Regions from separate parts of the Homo sapiens genome. Here all the other regions are linked to region 1. Evidence: fine-mapped expression QTL. A gene starts in region 1. Each other region holds a variant in brackets. All regions are shown on one strand. Distances are from middle to middle. Region 1 holds the start of FOXF1 (forkhead box F1). Region 2 has its middle 74 kb from the start of LINC01082. Region 3 holds the start of LINC00917 (long intergenic non-protein coding RNA 917).

Evidence for each region. PIP is the estimated chance that this variant, and not a neighbour inherited with it, causes the effect.
Region 2: its variant is fine-mapped to the expression of FOXF1 in spleen (GTEx, PIP 0.96).
Region 3: its variant is fine-mapped to the expression of FOXF1 in monocytes after R848 (Quach 2016, PIP 0.95).

The regions. Positions count from the first base shown.
Region 1 is chr16:86,505,869-86,514,666 of GRCh38, reverse strand. It overlaps FOXF1 (forkhead box F1), which reads right to left and starts at 4,140. Exons shown (of 2, transcript NM_001451.3): 1 at 3,119-4,140; 2 at 1-1,742. The coding sequence starts at 4,097. The coding sequence ends at 1,582. It overlaps FENDRR (FOXF1 adjacent non-coding developmental regulatory RNA), which reads left to right and starts at 5,807. Exons shown (of 4, transcript NR_033925.1): 1 at 5,807-6,012. RefSeq lists an enhancer at 1,881-2,647.
Region 2 is chr16:86,119,119-86,125,283 of GRCh38, reverse strand. No RefSeq gene overlaps it. Among named protein-coding and RNA genes, the nearest start is that of LINC01082, 74 kb to the left of the region's middle. The variant G/A (reference allele first, on the strand shown) is at 4,042.
Region 3 is chr16:86,344,290-86,350,353 of GRCh38, reverse strand. LINC00917 (long intergenic non-protein coding RNA 917) reads left to right here and starts at 4,675. Exons shown (of 7, transcript NR_024406.1): 1 at 4,675-4,862. The variant G/A (reference allele first, on the strand shown) is at 3,003.

The sequences.
Region 1 (8,798 bases):
AGAAAAATAGTTCCTCTTGTCCAGCGTTTACTTCAAAGTGGAATGAAGAGTGAAAAGAGGAGGATTTGCCAAAAAAGAAAAAAGTACTCAGAATCACCCAGATTGTAAATTTTTAAGCGTCTAGAGATCCAAAGCCTGTTTTTTCTTTTTTCCCCCCTCTATCTTTGGGAGTCTGGAAGGTATTCTACAATCTCAGTCCCAATAAAATACTCATGCAATTTTATTTCTAGTTGATACAATTTTAAAGGCCATGTACAAATGTTATACATTTTTATTTTTGTTCTTTTTTTAGGAAAAAATACACAAAAGGCAAAACATCCTCAAATGGTCCTTTTATACAGTGCAGAAGGAAATTTCAAATTTCAAATACGTGTCACAAATGCTGCACTCTAGCAGCCAAAATACAAAAAAAAAAAAGGAGGGTAGTCCTTCATATTATATATATATTTATATAAAACATATGGAAATTTGTTTTTACACAGATCGGTCTTTGTTTCAAATTTACAATGGATATCTAAAAAAAATTCTACACGGCAAATATTGCCAACAAAGTTACACCATTAATACTGATAAACGGAGGAGCCTACGCGGTGTTTTGATTATTAGGGAAAGAAAGTAGAATAAATAAACAGGAGCCTTGCTATAGTTTTTAAAAGTGCCTTAACCTTTCTGCGTCCCCGCAATCCTGAATCCGCGCGGTCACCGGGCCGTCCTAGTCCCTGCGTCGCGCTGTGTTCGGCTCGTTCTCGGACCAGAAAGTTTACAGTAGAGGTTGGGAGACAGAAAAATACCCACTGAAAAAGTCTAAATAAAATTCAAGACAAAACATAACAGAAGAGGCTGAAGCGAAGGAAGAGGAGGAACATGGAAGGGGACGGAGGCGGACGCCCGGACGGCCGCTTGCTTCGTGGCTCCTTTGACTTTCTGTTTAAAGACGGACAGTGGCTTCCGAAATGCAAGTTGTTCGCACAAAGATCCACCTGTGGTCCACGGAGGAGACTTCGGAGGTGGGGAGGGAGATCGGGAGGGAGATCTGAGCTCTTGTCACTTCCCGCTCCCTGCAAAAGACGGCTCTAAAGGGAGACTTGCGCATTCCAAGACATTCTTTCAAAAAAAAAATAAAAAATAAAAAGATAAATACTCAACCAAAAAATAAAAGTATTTGATAATGATTGGTCTCACATGTTTGCTTTTCTTCTAAAAATTTTCCCCCACTTCTGCCATTGGCCGGAAGGAGGGGGGACCTCAGCAGAATTCCTGTGTGGGTGCGGGGGCTTTCCCCTGCACAGCACCGTCTCAGGCGGGTTCAACAGGATCAAAAACTTTTATTTACCGATGGCTGCAGTCAGATCAGACCCACCACTAACATTTCTTAACAATTTTGAAGGAGTGAGGAAGGAGGTGCCAACCGCAGCGCTGTGTCTTTGCATTGGGGACTCCTTGCCAAAAACTCCGGTTGGGGAGAGGTGGAACCCTTTTCTTCTGCCGACGGTTATACCTCGAGAAGAAAGCAGTTTCTTGTGCCGGTCCAGGGTCCCTGTGACCCGCCTGCCTGCACCAGGAGGGCCTGCGGCGGCAGCCTCACATCACGCAAGGCTTGATGTCTTGGTAGGTGACCTGCTGGTGGTAGTAGGAGCCCCCGCCGGCCGAGTGCATGGAAGAGGACGCCATGGCGTTGAAAGAGAAGACAAACTCCTTTCGGTCACACATGCTGGGCGACTGCGAGTGATACCGCGGGATGCCTGCAAGGCGAGGCGACAGGAGGGGTTGGGGGAGCAGAAGAGTTAGCCACGGTGGCTCAGAGTTCAGGCAGAGGAGCAGTGCTCCCGTGGGGCGCACAGGGCCTGTCAGCCTGGCTCCAGAGCACGGCCGCCTCCCCGCTCTCCTCCCCGAGTCCCGGCCTTCCAGCTGCGCACCCAAGGAAAAGACTCCAGAACACTTGCCACGGCCTGCCTGCCTGCCTGCCTGCCTGCCTGCTGCGTGCCTGTCCAGCCTCGGACACCGTGCAGGGGCCCAGGGCTTCCAGAGCCATAGGGGAAGTGGTGAGGGAGACCAAGTGGAGGGCCCCTAACGCCCATGGCCGTCACCGCCAGGGCAGCCACCACCACCCCCAACCTCAGAGGCTACGACTGCCGGCGGGGTTGAAGGAGAGGCCAGTGCAGGGCCAGCGCCGGGCCAGCAGCAGGGGTGAGAAGAAGCTTCTCCAGAGAACAGGCCCCGGAGCCGGGGAGTCCCCCGCAGAGAGGCTGCCTAAGGCCTCCAGGCCTGGCTCCTGCCTCCTGGGGCTGCTGACAGCTGACCCTGGACTGGCCCTGGCAAGCTCACTCCAGCTTTTTCCAGAGCTGGGCCTGCAGGCTGCGGGGGGCCTGGGGCAGAATCAGGAGGCGAGGCTGCTGCATCTCCCTTGGCAGATGCTTCTGCATGTTCGGGGTATTGGGGTATCAGGGGTGTTGGGGGTGTGGGGACCTGAAAACTTGGATCCTAAAAAACAAGGAGCCCCCATGGCCCGGTCTGCAGCTCTGACCCTCCGGGGCCTGGCCACGGCACCCTCCTGCCTCAGTCACCACAAAATGCCCCTGGACTCAGCTGTGGGTCTGCCAGGTCTGGTCCCCTGAAAGGCCGGGGCTGAGCCTCTGAGCGCTGGCCCAGCGGCTTTGGGCCTAACACCTTCCGTTCCGCCCAGCCCCAGGCAGAGGCAGCCCTCCAGGCAGCCTGAGGGCCACCACCAGGGAGGGACAGCCATCTGGCCAGCGCTGGGAGCCTTGGGTCCATCCCAGGATCTTTCCAAGCTGTGAGGGGACTTAAGGGACACAAAAGGACTTAGGGCACTGGGGTCTGGGACATCTGGCTCAGGACCAGCCTACCTGGTCAGGCCTGGAGCAGCTGGCAGCTGGAGTTCGAACAGAAAGAGAAACAGATTGGCCCAAACTAGGGTCAAGAGCGGTAGTCACTCTTCGAAGGGGGAGAGGTGGGGCCAAGAGACACCTTGGGGAGCTGGTGCCTCCCCTCAGCCTTGGGGTTCCGACCACAGAAGTGGAGGGGCTCGCCCCAGCTGGGTCCCGCTGCCACTCAGACTCGACTTCCCGGGGACCAGGGCGCCCTCGGCCTCCCCACTCACCTTGCAGCTCGGCTGGGGCGTTGTGGCTGTTCTGGTGCAGATACGGCTGCTCCAGGGAGTGCGTGGAGAGGCTGCCGGACAGGGGGTTGGCCGCGGGGTTACAGGGGGACAGGGGCTGCTGCTTGATATAAGAGGCGCCGCTGTTGAGCGCCGCGGACGCCGAGGGCGGCCAGGCCGCCGCCGAGCCCGAGTAGACGGCGTGCGGCTCCATGACCCCACCGGCGCCGGTGGGCAGCAGCGGGGAGGCGGGCACCGAGCTGTCGTGGTGCGGGTACTCGCCGGCCGCCGCGCCGCCGCAGCCGCCCATGTACGAGTGGCCGCCGTTGGAAGGCAGGTGGGGCACCGAGTGGCTGGGCAGGGCCATGCCGTCCACGTTGCCCGGCAAGTGGCCGTTCATCATGCCCAGGCCGCCCTCCAGCGCCAGGCTGTTGGGCGGGCACGAGAGGCCGCCGGCCGAGCCCTGGAAGCCGTAGGTGTCCGGGAGGTGGTTGAAGCCGAGCCCGTTCATCATGCTGTACATGGGCTTGAGCGCCTGGCATTTCCTTCGGAAGCCGCGCGGCCGCCGCCGAAAGGAGCCCTCCTCGAACATGAACTCGCTGGCCGGGTCGATGGTCCAGTAGTGGCCCTTGCCGGGCCGCCCAAGGCCCTTGGGTAGCTTGATGAAGCACTCGTTGAGCGAGAGGTTGTGGCGCACGGAGTTCTTCCAGCCCTGGTAGGAGCCCCGGAAGAAGGGGAAGCGGCTCTGCAGGAACTGGTAGATCTCGCTCAGCGTCAGGCGCTTGGTGGGTGAACTCTGGATGGCCATGACGATGAGCGCGATGTAGGAATAGGGCGGCTTCTCCGGGCGCCGGATGCCGGCGTTGGTCTTCTTGGCCTTGGACGGGCCGGACGACGCGGGGTCCATGGCCGCGCCGCCTCCCCCGCCGCCGCCGCCGCCGCCGCCGTGCGGTGGCTGCTGCTTCTCGGGCGCCGAAGACATCGGGTGGCTGCTGCCGCCGCCGCCGCTGCCGCCGCTGCTCTGCGCCGCGGACGGGCCGGGAGGAGGAGGAGGAGGAGGAGGAAGAGGACGACGGGGGGGAGGAGGGCGAAGGGGAGGGGGCTGCGCGCGCGGGGCTGGCTGCACCTCTGCCGTCATCGGCGGCCACTTCTCCCGAGCGAGCCGCGGCGCGCCCGCCCCCGCGCTCCCGCCCGCCCTCCCCGAGGAGCTGCTGGATCCGCCGGCGGTTGGCTCAGAGCCCCTCTCTCTCCAACTCCCGCCTCCCCCACCTCTCTCCTCCCTCTTTCTTTCTCGCCCTCCCACAAGGAAAGGAGCCGAGCTGAGGCCGAGGGCAGCCCGGGCGAAGGCCGTGAGGAAGCTACCCCCGCCGGTATTTTTTGGGGGGAGGCACCACCTCCAGGTCTTACGGCCGTGCGCCCCAGCCGGGAGCAGCCCTGAGTCCCCGCCGCCCGCGGCGCTCGGCTCCGAGATTCCGGGCGAGGCAGCCTTCACTCCATCTCCGCTCGGCTGCGTCTCGCGGGTCGGCCTAAGACCCTCCCGGAGTTCCCTCCCTCCGTCCCTGCCCCCCTCGGGCCCCCGCGTTGGTGGGCGCTTAAAGAGCCCCCACTCTCGCCGCCCCGCGGCCGCCAGCAGAATCCGCCCCGCCTCCACCAACCTGGCGAGCAAGTGTTAATGCGCCCTCCGCCCGCGGTTCAGCCCCGGTGCGCGCTGGACCCCGCCTTCCCCGCCCGGGCGGCGCGGCGGGAAACGCTCCCTGGGCCGGGGCCTTCCCCGACGCGCACAGCCCTGTAGCAAATCGCAAGTGCGGCGGCCTCCCGGTCGTGACCATCGCAGGCACAGCCGGCTCGACTCCGGTCCTCGCGGCCGGCCGGCTAAGTTCCCGCGAGGGACCGCCTACCCACTCTCCCCGCCCCGGGAAGAACTGCGCCGCTCCCGGGATTTTTCGGACTCGCCCAGCAGCTTGCGAGCGGGCGGGCAGCCGCCGGGGCAGAGCGCAGGCGGAAAACGAAAGCGCAGCACGAGTCGCGGCCGCTTTGTCTCGGGCGCCGCGGGCCTGACGGGGGCGAGTGAGAACCCGCTGGCCCAGAGGCGACCCAGACCGCACAGGCCCCTGAATAAGCGGCGTGCTCAGTCACTCACCCGTGCGCGCACACCCTCGCGCTCTTGTCCACACATTAGCACACACATACATGTCTTGATGCACATGCAAACCCGGTAAATTACGCAAACAGACGTGTAAACACACCCATGCGTGTGTGCACACTCATATGCAGAGGGCGCTCAGGCATGTGCGCACCCACTAATGCACTCGTTGACACGGAAGCTTAAGGCCCACAGGAGCTTAAGTTCGCACTCACTCCCACTCACGCGTACACACGCCACGCTCGGATCTGAACTCACACGTAGTTCAGTTGCCCTCCCCCACCCCCAACACACACTGAAAACCCGCCTATTTGGCCCCGCGGCCCCGTTTTCAAAGCGCAGGTTCCGATTTCCCGAGAGATGGCAAAGGCCCTGGCAGGAAGTTTACAGGGTTTAACGTAAACAAGTTCTGGGGGATTCTTTAATAATAATAATAGAGAATTCCGCGTGCGCAGGGCGGGAGGGGGGAGTTGGCCTAATGCCCCTGTGGGCTCGGCCTGCCGCCGCCGCGGGGCCTCTGACACTGCGCGCCAGGCCAGGTTCCTGAGAGCAGACAGCGCGGGCTGGGAGCGCCGGCAAGGGCGGCCCTCGCGCACCTGGCTGCCAGCCCGCAGGGGGCTCGCACGCAGACCTGCCCTTGCCACCTCAGCGCTCGGGTGCGGGCTGGGGGCGGTGGAGCCACGAAAGGTGGTGCCGAGAGCGGAGCGCAGGACAGCGCAGGAGCCCCGGCGCATCGCGGCGCGCACAGACCCAGGTGAGTGCTGCTCTCGCAGCGACTGCTGGCCGGGCGCGGCCTCTCCCTCCAGGGTTCCGAGTTGAGAAGAGGGGGGCGAGGGGTGTTTTCGCGGGTCATCGCGAAGAGCCTAGAGGCCAAGCCCCAGCGCGAGCTGGGGCGAGAGGCGTGTGCCGGGCTCGCAGCACGGCCCGCGGCGCGGCGCGTTCAAAGCCTACCCGCCTCTCGGTTTTCTCCGGACTCCTTGTCTCCCGCTAACTACCCGCCCCCACCTTCCTGGCTCGGACGCCTTCATTTTCGGCGGGAGACGCCTGTCGCCTTCGGGGCGCCTGGCACGTCGGTGAGAGGAGCTGGGGGGCTCGCCGGCGCAGCCTGCCGGGCAGTCGCCGCCTCCTCCGCCAGATCTGCGCTCGCGGGAGAAGAGAGCCGCCTTCCCGCGCTGCCCTTCCGCTGGCCTCTCTGGGTCTCCGCGTGCAGACAGCCTGGCCCGCCTAGGGAAAGAATGAGTGTGGGACGTGACCCGTAGTGTGTGGTTGTGCATTCACGCAGGTAAACGCTCTCTGGCAGACCCGCTACCACTTCACACAACCAGCTCAGCCTCCGCGCACACAGACACGCTCCGCACCGCCCACGGCCTCAAACACCCTTCCCAGCGACCCTCACACAGCTCAGGCGCTCCCAACCCTTGGACCAACACACAGGCCTGCCCAACGGGGAGGGCACACTTTGGTTTAAGTGCACACTTCATGCACGCCCACATGTTCTCCACTGCGCGTTCGCCCACGCATAGCCAGGCGCCACGCGCAAATAATCATAGGTACCGCCGCTCCATACGTGCGCACGCGTCCACGAACACAAGCATTCTCACATTCTCTCCCAACTTTTGTGTGTGTGTGTGTGGCAAATGGCAGTTGCAGATGAGGAGACCCTGGCCTCCGGAGGAAAGTTCTGTTCCCAGGAAGGGGTCGCTACTGCCGACTGCCAGAGCACATCTGGCCCTTAGCAGAGGTGAGCAGAGAAGGCTGCACAGCTCTTAAGCCAGCTAGGGGTGCAGGGCGCACGCTGCGGCTCGCTGAAAGTGGAAATAGCATCTCCCTTCCCCTCGCCCCTCCCCCACTCATGGGGCGCCTTCAAAGTGAGCGGGTCCCTAGAGCATGAAGTTGGGGAGCCCTTTCCCAGCAGACTCCTTCACTCCTGGGCCCTCTTCAGTTGGGGAAGGGAAGCCGCAGGTCCCATCGTTGGCTAACCCGGAGATCCATTTTTCCCTCCTTTCCACCCTTCTTTCTGCCCTTTCACCGGCTCTGATAGCAAACCAGACCTTACAGAACAGCCAGTCACGGAGCCCAGCGAAAGAGCCGGCCCAGTAGGCCTGGGAGTCTCAGGAAGGCCAAAGATGGAGGCTCTCCCCAACTGCTCATCTCTACTGCTGGGTGTGTGTAGAAGTGGGGGCGTGAGAGAGGAGGCGAATGAGCTCCCAGCTCTGTAATTTGGAGGGGACCCCCTGAATTCTGGGGAAAACCACAGCCGTAGCAAGAAGGGCTTTCCTTCATGCTCAGAGACTTCATTCTCAGCTCTTACAATGTCCCTGAGAGGTCTCCCTTGATCCTACATTTTTAGGGTGGAGAAACTGAGGCTCAGCATGGACTTGAATCTCTTATCAGCCAGCACTGAGAGGTGAACACTCTCCATCTCCCCTCTCTACGTCCAAGGACAAAATTTCCTGGCGTTTCACTCTCCCATGTGCCTCTGTGTAGGCGGGGAGTGGAGAGAATGGGGCTTAGAAATGCCTCTGCCATCATTACACAGCCCTGGCTTCCCAGGGCCAAGGGGACAGAGAGCCCCCGTTGGGGAACTGATGGTGATAAAATAGCAATGACAACTACGAATACTAGATAATAACAGGCTCATCCACTGCTGCCCAGGCACCAGGCGCTGCTCCTCACTCGATGAACTGCCCTTGTCTGCTCCTAACCTTCCTCTTGGCTGTCAATCCTTTGAAAATTAGTCCGACCTGCCCCCGCCCCCAGAAGGTGCATATTTGTGACATTCGTAGAATGATTTTGAAGGTTTCGCCAAATGTCTGGAGCCCATCTGTGAACCTGTGAGGCACCAACCATGAACTCAGGACACTGGTTAAGTGTCCCTAAGAGACTTGTGTAATATTCACCGATGCCCCTACCAAGTCAGTATAATTTCCCTCCTCATTCACAGTTGGAGCTCTGCGAGGTCACTCCAGGTCCTGGGTCACCCTGCAAAGCCAGTATCCAAACCTGGCCTGATTGCAGAACCAGGGCGTTAAGTGTCCTGACCACGGGGTGAGGCTCAGCGGTGCTCAGGGCAGAGGGGCCCCGCTGCCGCGAACCCCAAAGGCAGGGGGATTTGAACTCGCCCCACCATGTAAGGATGATGCATAAGCTCTTTGCACCTTAGTTTCTTTATCTGAAAAATGGAACTCATCATGGTTCCTATTTCTTGGGGTCGTACAGAGGGTTGGACAAGACCATGCAGGGAAGGCTTAGGTTGTACAAACAGAAACAAAAACCCCAGGGGCTCAGCTCCAGGGATGGAGGAGAAAATGCAGACAGGGACAGAGATCGCGGGCAGCCTTTTGCTCTTGGATTAAAATCCATGAAGACCGGCCCCCTCCCACCCCAAAACAAATCTGCGCCCCATCTCTGGCCCCAGGAATCCTGAAACTGGCCGAGCAGGGCGGGGGTGGGTGTGTAAAAACGGACACGACTGCAACGTCTCCCACTCCCCAGGCCCAAGGTATTTTTACTAGCTAATTGCTTAAGCGAAGCCGCCCG
Region 2 (6,165 bases), 390 kb after region 1:
TGGGACATAACACCAGGCCAGAGGCAGTGGCTTATGTTGAAAATATCTTCTTCCAGTCTGTGGCTTTCCACCTTATTTTGTTAAGGGTGTATTTGTTAAGAACAAGAGAATTGTGTCTTTTCATTTAATATAGTCAAATTTATCAAATTCCTTTGTAGATCATGATATTTTCATGTTAACAAAGCTGCCTTGGCTCCAACGTCATGAAGATATTCTCCTATATTCCCCCTTTAGAGTTTTAACATTTCCCCTTCCACATTTCGATGTATATCAAATTCTGTTTCTATAGACAGCTAATTTTATTTTATTAGGCAAACTTCTACCATTACTTTGAGGGGTCACTAACTGATTATGGTTTGGTCAGCGTAGCTGTCAGACACACAGAGACTCACTACCAGGGGGCTTGGGGCTCAGTGATGTTTGGGAAATGCCGGAAAAGTCATTAGAGGGGAGCTGGGTCATAAAAACATTGAAAACCCTTGATCTGCAAGCAAGGTTTATTGCCTTTGAGATTATTTGGAGGACAGAAGGTTACAATTCCATGAAATTCTCTTAGGTCTCTTTGGCCCTATTTATAGACTAACCAGTCAATGATCCTCCCATCTTGACAGAGGCCCAGGTTAAAAGGTTCACAAAGTGGTATCCCCTTTACTACCCCCATTGGCCGCCAATAGCTGAGAACTGCAGCCTCTGCTAGGAAACCAGCCTGTTCAGTGCTTTGGTTAGCATTTCACCTCCCATCTCAGGATCCCTCTGAAGTCTGTGTCATTATCTCCATCTTACAGCTGCTTGGACCCTGGCACTCAGGAAGGTGACAGGCCCCGTGCCTATGGGGCGGATCTAGTATTCAAATGTGAAACAAATTCCCATGCAAGCACTCTTTCTATCCCGTTATTTCCCAAAGAGCAAGATCTCTGTTTCTGGTGGCCAAATGACTTTAAGTAGTATGTACAGAATAGCTTTTTGTTTCAATATTCCATATTGGTTTTTTTTTTTTTTTTTGAGATGGAGTCTCACTCTGTTGCCCAGGCTGGAGTGCAGTGGTGCAATCTCAGCTCACTGCAACCTCTGCCTCCCGACTTCAAGTAATTCTTCTGCCTCAGCCTCCCAAGTAGCTGGGACTACGGGTGCATGCCACCACGCCTGGCTAATTTTTTGTGTTTTAGTAGAGACGGGGTTTCACCGGGTGGCCCAGGCTGGTCTCAAACTCCTGAGCTCAGGCAACCCACCCACCTCAGCCTCCCAAAGTGCTAGGATTACAGGTGTGAGCCACCGCGCCTGGCCTCCATATTGATTTTTATGTGAACTGGAGATCATAAAACAGTACTCAAGCATATCCTGTCAAGCATCACACTGCTTAGGCGATGGTAACAAGGCACTGCAGGGCTGGGTGTGGCTGGTTATGTGCACAGGTGTGGAGCCCACCTGCCCCCCAATCCCAGCCAAAGTCCAGCCATGTCCTAGCCAGTGACCTGGCCTCTGGCAACCTGCCCTCTCCCTGCCTCTATTCCCCTATGTAAAATGGGACAACTATAGTTTTTACCTCAGCCTACTGCTGCAAAGTTTAAATGCCAAAATAGGCAAAATGCTGAGAACAGTGCCTGGTATGAAGTAACCATTCTGTTATTATTAAATATTAGTTTGGATTTTTGGCCAGGTGCGGTAGCTCACTCCTGTAATCTCAGCACTTTGGCCTGGGCAACAGAGTGAGACTTCATCTCCAGAAAAAAAAAAATTAAAAATTGGCTGAGTGTGGTGACTACTTAGGAGGCTGAGGCGGGAAGATCACTTGAGCCCAAGAGGTAGAGACTGCAGTGAGCCGAGATGGTGTGGCTGCACTCCAGCCTGGGCAACAGAGTGAGGCCCTGCCACAGAAAGAAAAAAAAAAAAGATTTTTAAAGGGATACTATTTTTTAAAAAGATAGTCCTGTTTCAAATAATTTGAATACTACTATCTAAAACATTTGCATTTATAGAAAAAATGCTACTGGCATGTTGTGGCTGTGGAGGTAAATCATGGCCCTCGCACATCCCACCTCCGCACTGACACTCAGCATTTTCAGCACATGGTTCTCTGTCCTGGGTGCACCTTGGAGTTTCCAGGGTAGCATTTAAATGCCTAGCAGCTGTCCCCGCCTCAGACCACTGGAGGCAGAAACCCTGGGGTACAGCCTGGGCATCAGACTCTGCGGAGCCCCCGCTGACTGCAATGTGCAAGGTCGAGAGCTCCTGGTCCAAACATCTGCCTTCCTCTGGGTCCAAGTAGCAGGGCAGAGTCTCCAGGAAACCGGCACACAGGTGGGGACTCCGTGCCGCAGGAGGAGGAGCTTCGGCCCTCAGTGTGTGTTCTGCTGCGGAGGTGAGTGCACCTGCAGAACAGGACAGGAAGTAGTCCAAAGCATTGAGGGCTGAGGGCTGGTGCCCCAGGCCTTAGTGGGGGCCGTGGGGGCCTGAAAGGAGGGTCGTGGAGGCGGGGCCAGCCTGGGAGAGAAGCTGGAGGATTCCCACCTCTGGCCAGAAAGCCTTGGCAACTCGCCCACAGTCCCAGAGCAGCCAGGGCAGCAGCCAGTCTGGGGAGACCCCACAGAGCCCCTGGCCTCACTCCTCCGCTCCCCCGACTTCCTGCTGGACCCCCATTGGCAGAATCAAGGGTGCTGTCGGTGCAGTTGGAAGAGGTCAGCTTCCAGGGCCCACAGGCTTATCCACTCTGGAGGCTCTGATCATCACCTTGGGAGACTGGGAGAGAGGAGGAGAGAGCTGAAGACCAAGCACAGAGAAGAAGGCTGAGAGGCTAACGAGGAGGCTAAGGAGGAGGAGAGACCACTGAGCGGGGATTCGGACAGAGTAAGGAGGGTGACACAGCCCCACTCGCTGCTGCAGCCCAAGCAAGGCCTCTCCACACCCAGTCTCTTCACCTGGCCCAGGAGATTGTTGGATGGAGGCTCTAAGCCAGCTCTGAAAGACACTGCCCCAGAGCAGGAATCGTTTCTCCTCCCCTTTTACCCCATGAGCACCAGTTCTGGAATCTGAAGTCACACCTTGGTCCCAGACTTCCTGACCTCGTGAGTCTCATCCTCCTCCTTTGCAAAATGAAGAGCATTCACCTCTTGCAGTTGTGGGGGCTGCACGTGGGGGATGCACGCTCAGCACTGTGGGCTCAGTTGTGCTGGCCTTGATCTGCAGTGTCTGGTCACCAAGAGTCACCCTCAGCATCAGCCCGGGCAGCAGCTCCAGATCAAAGTGGAGAAGGGGCAGGAGAGAGAGGAGGATGGAAGGGAGGTGGGGAGGGACAAGGAGAAGGAGGAGGGACAAGGAGGAGGGAGGAAGGGAGGACGGGAGAGAGGTGGGGAGGGACAGGGAGGAGGAGGATGGACAAGGAGGAGGAGGAGGCAGGAGTAGGAGGGAGGAAGGGAGGAAGGTGCGGCGGGACAAGCAGGAGGAGGGAGGAAGGGAGAGAGGTGGGGAGGGACAAGCAGGAGGAGGAAGGACTAGGAGGAGGTGAAGGAGGCAGGAGGAGGAGGAGGAGGGAGGAAGGGAAGATGGGAGGGAGGTGAGGAGGGACAAGGATGAGGAGGAAGGATGAGGGCAGAGGAATGGAGTATAGGAGGGAGATGGGGAGGGACAGGCAGGAGGAGGAGCAACAAGGAAGAAGAAGGAGGAGGAGGGAGGAGGAGGGTGGAAGGGAGGATGGGAGGGAGGTGAGGAGGGGCAGGGAGGAGGAGCAACAAGGAGGTGGGGGGATGATGATGAGGGGGAGGAGGGTGGAAGAGAGGATGGGAGGGAGGTTGGAAAGGACAGGGAGGAGGAGGAGGAGGGAGGAGGAGAAGGAGGGAGGATTGCAGGGAGAAGGAGGAGGGAAGGGGAGAGGGACAGGGAGAAGGAGGAGGAGAGGGAAAGGAAACAGGAGTTGGTTTGATTATTGTGAGAAAGTAGCCCTGGGATCTTGTCCTCATTTTAAATATGGGCTTTAATTACACATATGGGGCTGGCAAAGAAAAATATGAACCCCCAAGAGATCATGACCCTAGAATACGTTTTTCA[G/A]TACAGGGGAAATTCCCAATTTGATGCTGCTAGATAGGCCATGTTTTTGTTCTTCCCCCTCACTAAAATCTGGCTCATAACCTTAAGCCAAAAAGCAACGCTACCTTGACACTTTGCTTTTAACATTTAAACAGGGTCTAAGGCCAGAACTGGTTGTTCAGGATGAGATATGGGGGTGTGAACTGGCACTCCTGCTGGCCATAAATCAGGGCAAATCCCACAGATGCACCTCCTGTTTGGATAAGAACTGCGGAGCCAGCTTGGAGGCTGGTGGGGAGAAAGAGAGAGGGAGGAGAGGAAGAAGAGCTAGAGGAGGAGGAGGAGAAGGGGAGGAAGAGGAGGAGGAGAAGGGGGAGGAGGAGGAGGAGGAAAGGGGGGAGGAGGAGGAGGAAGAGGAGGAGGAGGAGGAAGAGGAGGAGGAGGAGGAAGAGGAGGAGGAGGAAAAAGGGATGTGGTGCTATGCATGGCAGCAACTTCCTGCACTTAAAACAAGCTAGTTATGCTTTTTTGCTATCAAAAAACAAGTGCTAGGTTAAGGTCTAACTTACTAACAAGCTGTGACTCAGACCACCACGCCTTGTAGCTCATTTCCTAAGCAACAGAAAGAAACGCAGCCACACTGTAGCTAAGCTGCCCACCTAAGCATGTGCGGGCATCATTTGTGCTGCTTTGATCAACAAAACTTTTAAACATTTCAATCATTTTATGTAAGTTTTTTTTTTCCAAAATAAGCTTCACATTTCTCACAGAGTTGAAAAGCTATTCTGAATTATCTGGAGGCTTTCTACTCATGGAGATGAGTATGAATCAATGGGCAGCTCCCACAGCCATGTTCTCTGGAGGTACATTTGTTCATTTCATCATTCGCACCTATTATGTGCCACAGCTCTCGTGGGCACTGGAGATTCTTCAGAGAATAAAACAGACAAGATGCCTGCCCACAGGACACTGACATTCTCATAGAGAAAGTAACACAGAAACACACATCATACAGGGCTAGATGGGGCTGTGCTATGCCGACAAGAAAGCAGGGAGCAGGTGCAAAAAGACACTGAGATCAAGGTGTCTTGCTCTGATGCCTAGGCTGGAGGGCAGTGGCACGATCTTGGCTCACTGCAGCCTCTACCTCATGGGCTCAAGCAATCCTCCCACCTTAGCCTCCCAAGTAGCTGGGACTCCCAAGTAGCTGGGACTCCCAAGTAGCTGGGACTTCCAAGTAGGTACATGCTGCCACACCTGGATAATTTTTGTATTTTTAGTAGAGAAAAGGTTCTGCCATGCTTCCCAGGCTGGTGTCAAACTCCTGGGCTTAAGTGGTCCTCCTGCCTCAGCCTCCCGAATTGCTGAGATTACAGGCATGAGCCACCGTGCCCAGCCTATACCAACTATTTTTTAATAGCTTTTTCCTGTCTATTCTTCATTGTCATCCTTGACTAGAAATTTCTGAGCACCAAAAGAGATGGGCAAAGTCCAGTCCCCTGAAGCCCCTGAAGCCCTTAGAGCTTACCCACAGGTCCCTGCTATTGGTATTGTACTTCGTCCACAATGTTAGTACATTTGGTTATTTGGTCTTTGATGTCAGCACATACTAGAAGCAGAAAAGTAAAAGGAATACAAGGGGAATACAAGGTCAGTATTAAAAAAGGGGATGTTGAGTTTTTAATTCATTGGGATTCCTTGACAGATTTTACAATTTACTTTTAGATATTTGACTAAGTAAAGAGGTTCTGGCGGTCAAGGGGTGGTTCTATTTCTGCTACATTCTGATTTAGCTGGGTTTTGCTAGATCAACTTGGGACCCTAAAAACCGTGTCAACCGTGGTGATGCAGGGATGCTCTCATGATGAAAATAACCTGTGCTCTGAGAGTCTGTCCTGCTCCCCCTCAGACAGCCAGCTACAGCAGGATGGCACTGTGACAACCGGCCCTGAGCACCTCCTGTGTACAGAATAAAGGACTGCCCCCACCTGCTACAACCCCAAGGCACTGACTTTTGCTCTCTAGGGCTCTGGGGGGAACCCCTCACTCCACGCCTGAAACAGCAGTTGGGCAGGGAGGCCAATCTGGGCCCCAGATGGCAGCTGCTGTGTGACCCTGGGCAGGCTACCTACCCTCTCTGTCTAC
Region 3 (6,064 bases), 160 kb after region 1:
GAAGGAAAATCTTTGGAGAAACTTTTAAATGTAGACACTCTGGGAACAGTGAAATGATGCAAAGCCCTCAACGGCATTTTCAGCATGGACCAGGGAGAGAGGAGAGAGTTTCCCTGGAACACACAGCTTGTCGATAAGAAAGAGCCTACAAAATACTCCAGGTCAAAAGGAGCGAGATCCAGGATCAGTTGAACTCCTGCAAGACCTGCCAGTGCCGAATTACAGCAATCTTGGTGCCTGCTGAGGTGGGAGTCAGGGAGGCTGTGGAATTCTGAGCTTCCTGGTTGGCTGAGGAGAGAGGGCTCAGGGGAGAGGTCTTCCTCCCACCACTGCCTTAGAGAAACCCCAAAACCTCATAGCTTCGAACCCCAGAATTCTCTGGTCTTCTGCAAAAATGCAGACATGCTGGTGTCAGGAATCAGCCTGGAGTCCCAGGAGCAGCATCTCACATCTTTACGGCAACACAAAACAAAGCAACACAAAAACAACAAATGCAAAGATATCTTCTTGAGGAGAGGCCTCAACTGAATGAGCAGGGAGGGGCGTGTTCCTTAAACCAGTGGTTCTCAAAAGGTGGTATCTGGACCAGCAGCAGCAGCAGTGCCACCTGGGTGCAGACCAGAGGATTCCAGAGCCCTGAGGGCTCCTAGAAGGAACACAGTGACATCACAGAGTCATTGTGGGGGAGGGGTTGGGCCAGCCAGGGCAGGCAGGGACAGCCCCTCTGATGAGGAGGCCACTGGGCTGAGACCAATGAATGAGATGGAGCCAGCCACGTGGTGAGCCAGAAGAGGGCATCACAGGTAGTGGGTCCAGCATGTGCAAAGGTCCTGGGGCAGGACAGTTCTTGGGGGTATTTGAGGTACAGGATGATCCCTGGATGAGCGCCTGGGTGCATGAAGCATGTGTGGAGAGTGTCAGCTCCCAGCGTGGCTGCAGGAGGGAGTTGTTTAATGAGTACTGAGTTTCAGCTCTGCAGGATGAAAGGAGTTTGTGTGTTAGAAATGCACATTCTCAGCCCCACCCCGGCCCCGTCACAGACCCTCCAGGGAACCCTCATGCAAGCCCAAGTCTGAGATCTGCTGCTCTCAACAACTGGGTGTTTCCCCAAGGGCCCCTCTGGGTGAATCTCAGATGTAGCGTGGGGAGAGAGGATACAGAGGCTGACCCCTGGCAAACTCTTCCCTCTGATACTCAGTGTTCAGGTCCATGAAATGGGCTCCCGAAGTCCAACCTCACAGACCCCATAGGAAAGCAGATGGAATCTCCAAGGGCACCAGCTATACATGGTGGTGGAAGGACCAACGCATGCTCTGAATGCCACTGCGGACCACAGGCCAGTGCCCTCCATGAGCCTGACCTCAGGCCTCAGTAATCGCTCCTTCTCTGTCCAACACGGGCCCTTTTTCTGTCCTCCTCTTTCTTTAGGCCTTTCTCTGTCCCTCACGACTGGCCTCACCCCGTCCTGGGCTCTGCAGAACTGGTGCATGGCTCTGCCAGGGGGTGAACCCTGGCTCTGCCCCTTTTCTGACTGAGGAAGCTGCTTGGCCTTTCTGTGTCTCAGCTGATCTCTAAAATGGGAGTGAAAATCTCTAAACTCATTGGCCGCAGTGAGAATTAGAGAAGACGCAGCACCCTGCTATATGCCTGGCATGGTTGCCGTCCGCCAACAGTGCCTACCAGTTATTATCAACCAGTCATGCTCTGAAACTCTCCACCCACCTAAACATGTGAGACCTCTGTGACACCCCCATCCTAGAGCTCCTTACGACCTCATTGGTTGAGCCCATGGATTCCTCTGTTTCTTAGATATCACCATTTTCCTTTCATGCGTGACTGTATAGAACCAGGTACCTGTAAACAGGAGCGTCTGCTCTGGAGCATCCTCTATTCTAATTTCTTAGCATCTCCCATTTGTGGTTTGCCATGAGAAATGAGCTTGTGGCTGTGGGCAGCCTCCCTGGGCTGTCTTCTTCCTGCTCATGTGGGATCAGGCTCGGAGCTGGAGGTCACTGCCTGCAGGGCTCCCCGGGAGAAGCACTGCACAGGATGCTCTGGGGTGATGAAAAGTTCCAGATTGGGCCATCCAGGGTTCCAGTCAGCAGCCATTAGCCACGAGTGGCTGTGCTCTTGAAGGGTGGCTCAGAAGCCTAAGAGCTGCATGTGTATCTTATGTGATCTGAATTGAAGTGTAAGCAGACACCTGTGGTGAGCAGCTTCCGAGGTGGACTGCAGCCCTGGGGAGTATCCCCCTGCTTCCAGGCTGTGCTCCCTGAGCCCCAAAGGTTCCAGCAGGTGCTTTCGGGGTTGCACCTTAGAGGCAGAAGGCAGGAAAGGTCGGTCGGCAGGGCTTTGTGGCCCCACCTTCTACAGAGCACGTGTGTCCTCATCCACGCACCATGCTGTTTGAAGAAAGCTTAGGAAAGGAATGATGAGACCCGTGACTTCAGTCAAGCCTTTGCTGAACATATAAGGAAACAGAGAGGGTCATGAAGTGGAAGGACTCACACAGCCACCCCTCCTTCAGTGGGGAAAGCGAGCCTGGGAACATGCTCAAGCCCCTTTGGGGTGGGGGGTGGGAAGATGGCGACAAGCAGTTCCTTGTGGACCCCGGTCCCTGACCCCACAGAGTGGGGACCCCAAGGGCAGTGAGGGGCAGAGTGAGTTTGTACCAGGCACTGGGACCCCAAGCTCCCTCTCTCTGGCCATGGCTGTGGGGGTCCCCAAGTGGAAGTGGAAGAGGGAAACTGAGGAAAACAAAATGGTCCTGCTTGAGAGAGGGAACATGGGCTGCTTTCTCCTCCCCCACCAGCTAGTCCAGTGAGCCTCATCTGTTCTCACGCTACTAATAAAGACATACCTGAGAATGGGGAATTTATAAAGAAGGAGGTTTAATGGACTCACAGTTCCACATGGCTGGGGAGGCCTCACACTCATGGCAGAGGACAAAGGAGAGGCAAAGGCAGGTCTTACATGGTGGCAGGCAGGAGAGCTTGTGACAG[G/A]GAATTCCCATTTAAAAAACCATCAAATCACGTGAGACTTACTCACTACCATGAGAACAGCATGGGGGAAACCACCTCCATGATTCAATGATCTCCACTTGGCCCTGCCCTTGACATGCTGGGATTATTACAATTCAAGGTGAAATTTGGGTGGGGACACAGCCAAACCGTATCAGAGCCTTTGAGATGTGTCGAGGCTGCCACCCCAGCTGAATTCATCAGCAGGACAGGAAGGGGGCTGGGAAGGGCTGTAACTTTCTTGCTCTGTGATCCAAGCTGAGACAGAAATGTTTGTTGAAAGGGGCTGGGGTCAAACAAGCCTGGGTTCAAATCCTGTCCCACCCTTGCTTGTTCTGTGACCTCGGAAGTCAGTTCCCCTCTCTGAGCTTCCTTTGTCTCATCTGTAAAATGGGGACAAAATATAAAATGTAAAAATACAAACCAGGAAGTTGGAAGTCATACACTTTCTGATTTCAAAAGTTACTAGAAAACTATGACAATCAAAACACTGTGGTCCTGACCTACATACAGACAGATAGACCAATGGGACAGAACACAGAGCCCAGAAAGAAGCCCTTTGACTTATTTGACATTCAAGTGTCTTGAGCCAAGACCCTTCAGTGGGGAAAGGGCAGTCTTTTCAAAAAATGGTATTTGGAAAACCAAATACCACACGCAGAAGAATGAAGTTGAGCCCTTCTCTTACACCAGATACAAAAAATTAACTCAAAAAGGATCAAAGGCATTACCATAATAACTAAATGTAAAAAAACTACAAAACTCTTAGAAGAAAACATAGGGGGAAAGCTTCACAATGTTGGACTCGGCAGTGGCTTCTTGGCCACGACACCCAAGAACAGGCAAGAAAAGGAAAAACAATTAAATCCATGCAAACACGTGTGCACAAATGTCCTCAGAGCGCTATTCCTAACAGCCAAATGCTGAGAGCAACGAAAATGTTCATTGACAGGAGAATGGATAAACAAAACGTGGTCCATCCATACAGTGGAATATTATTCAGCCTTAAAAAGGAAGGAAGTTCTGACACCTGCTATGACATGAGTGAGCCTTGAGGATATGGTGCCGAGTGAAACAAACCACTCATAAAAGGACAAACATTGTATAATTCCACAGACATGACTTGCCTAATGTCAGCAAATTCTCAGAGATAGAAAATAGCAGGTGGCGGAGGGCTGCTCAGGGTTACGGGGATGGGGGTGGTGTTTAACAGGGACCTTCCTGAGCTATTTCCTGATAGCAGCTGGGAGCCTTTTGAACAGCCTGCAGCGGGATTCTGGAACAATCTAAACTGGCCATGGCAGTTCCAGGGGCAGGGCTGACTTTGAACTCCAGCAGGAAGTGCAGTGCGAGGCCAGCTCACCCACTTCAGCGTCTCTTTCCTTTGTGTTGTTTAGACCCCCAAAAACACCCCCAAGTCCTGTCTCCCCTTGTGGAGGAAAGGCTGGTGGGAGGAAAGAAGGCTTGTTGAGTATCTACTGCACACCCGGCCCTGGGGCTACGGCTGGAAGCTGGACAGGCCGGGTCCTTGCCCTCCTGAGACCTGCCTTCTAGTGGGGAGAGAGATAGAGACGGAGGAAACAAAACACAGACCAGAGGATTTCAGAGGGTCTGAGGGCTCCGAGGAGAAGGAACACGATGATGTCATAGAGTCATTGTGGGGGAGGGGCCGGCCAGCCAGGGCAGGCAGGGGCGGCCTCTCTGACGAGAAGGAGGCCACTGGGCTGAGGCCAATGAATGGGAAAGAGCCAGCCATGTGGTGAGCTGGGAGAGGGCATCCCAGGCCGTGCGACCTGCGCTTGCAAAGGCCCTGGGGCCGGACAGTTCTTGGCAGAGTCTGAGGTACAGGATGATCCCTGGATGAGCGCCTGAGTGCACGAAGCATGGGTGGAGAGGGTCAGCTCCCAGCGTGGCTGCAGGAGGGGGTCGTGTAATGAATACTAAGTGCCAGTTCTGCAGGATGGAAACAGTTTTGAAATTGGACGGTGGCGATGGTGGTGCGATAATGCGAATGGACCCAATGCCACTGAAATATTCACTTTAAAAAAGTTAAAATGGCAAGGTTTACATTAACTAGACTTTGCCATAATAAAAGAAAAAGGAAAAAATATAATAACTGTGTGAAGTTGAGATGAAATGATGCAACTAATAATTTAGTTTGGTTAGCAAAGAGTAGGCACTCACATAGTTCAATATAACCATCATTATGACGGTACCCTGTCAGTGCTGGGGGATGCTTTATGAGGGAGGTGGAAGACGAGGAGGAGGCGGAGAGAGAAAGAGAATCAGCTTCTGTTATCCACAGCAGGATGCCTCTGGAGTTGTTTGAAGTAGAAAGGTAGTCCATGTGATCCCGTTTATATTGTAATATTGCTTGAGTAGGTCTTTAAAATTACAAAGTACTAGATAGAGCTAACTCAGCCCAGTCCTAATAATCACGACTCCTTGAGTATCTGTGAGGCTTCTGGTACGTTCTCTACAGTCCCAACATTGGGACCGACTGAACCATGTGTTGCACATTAAATCCAGGGTCCGGGACACCTCCCAGGCCACCTCTGTCATTTCACAAGTGCCAGGCCATCTTCTCAGTGCTTGTGAGCATCCCTTCACACTCAATCCTTCCCACACACCTGCCAAAGGGAAGGAGGCAGGAACCACCTACGGATGCCAAGAAACAGGCGGCATGGTCCTCCCGCCCTCGAGGCTGTTACCACCTGGAACACCCCACCCCAAAAGTAAGACCACCTACCATCTGGGCTTCTGTCTCACACAGGATATAGCCTCTCAGTGGCCAACTGTTTTTAATAAGGGTCTGCCAGTTCTAATGATATTGCACAGACACGGGGAAGGGGAGAGAGGAGACAGGACTTTGTCATGAGCTGTTCATCCCTCCAACAGCAGTGCTGGTGTCACGGCTGATGGGCAAAATTCCTACAGATGCCTTCTCTTAGAAACTCACTTCCCTCTGGAACCAGACGCAGGCTTCTCCAGGAAACAGCTCACTACCTGACACAATCCCCAACCCCCCTCTGTCTTCTTTTCCC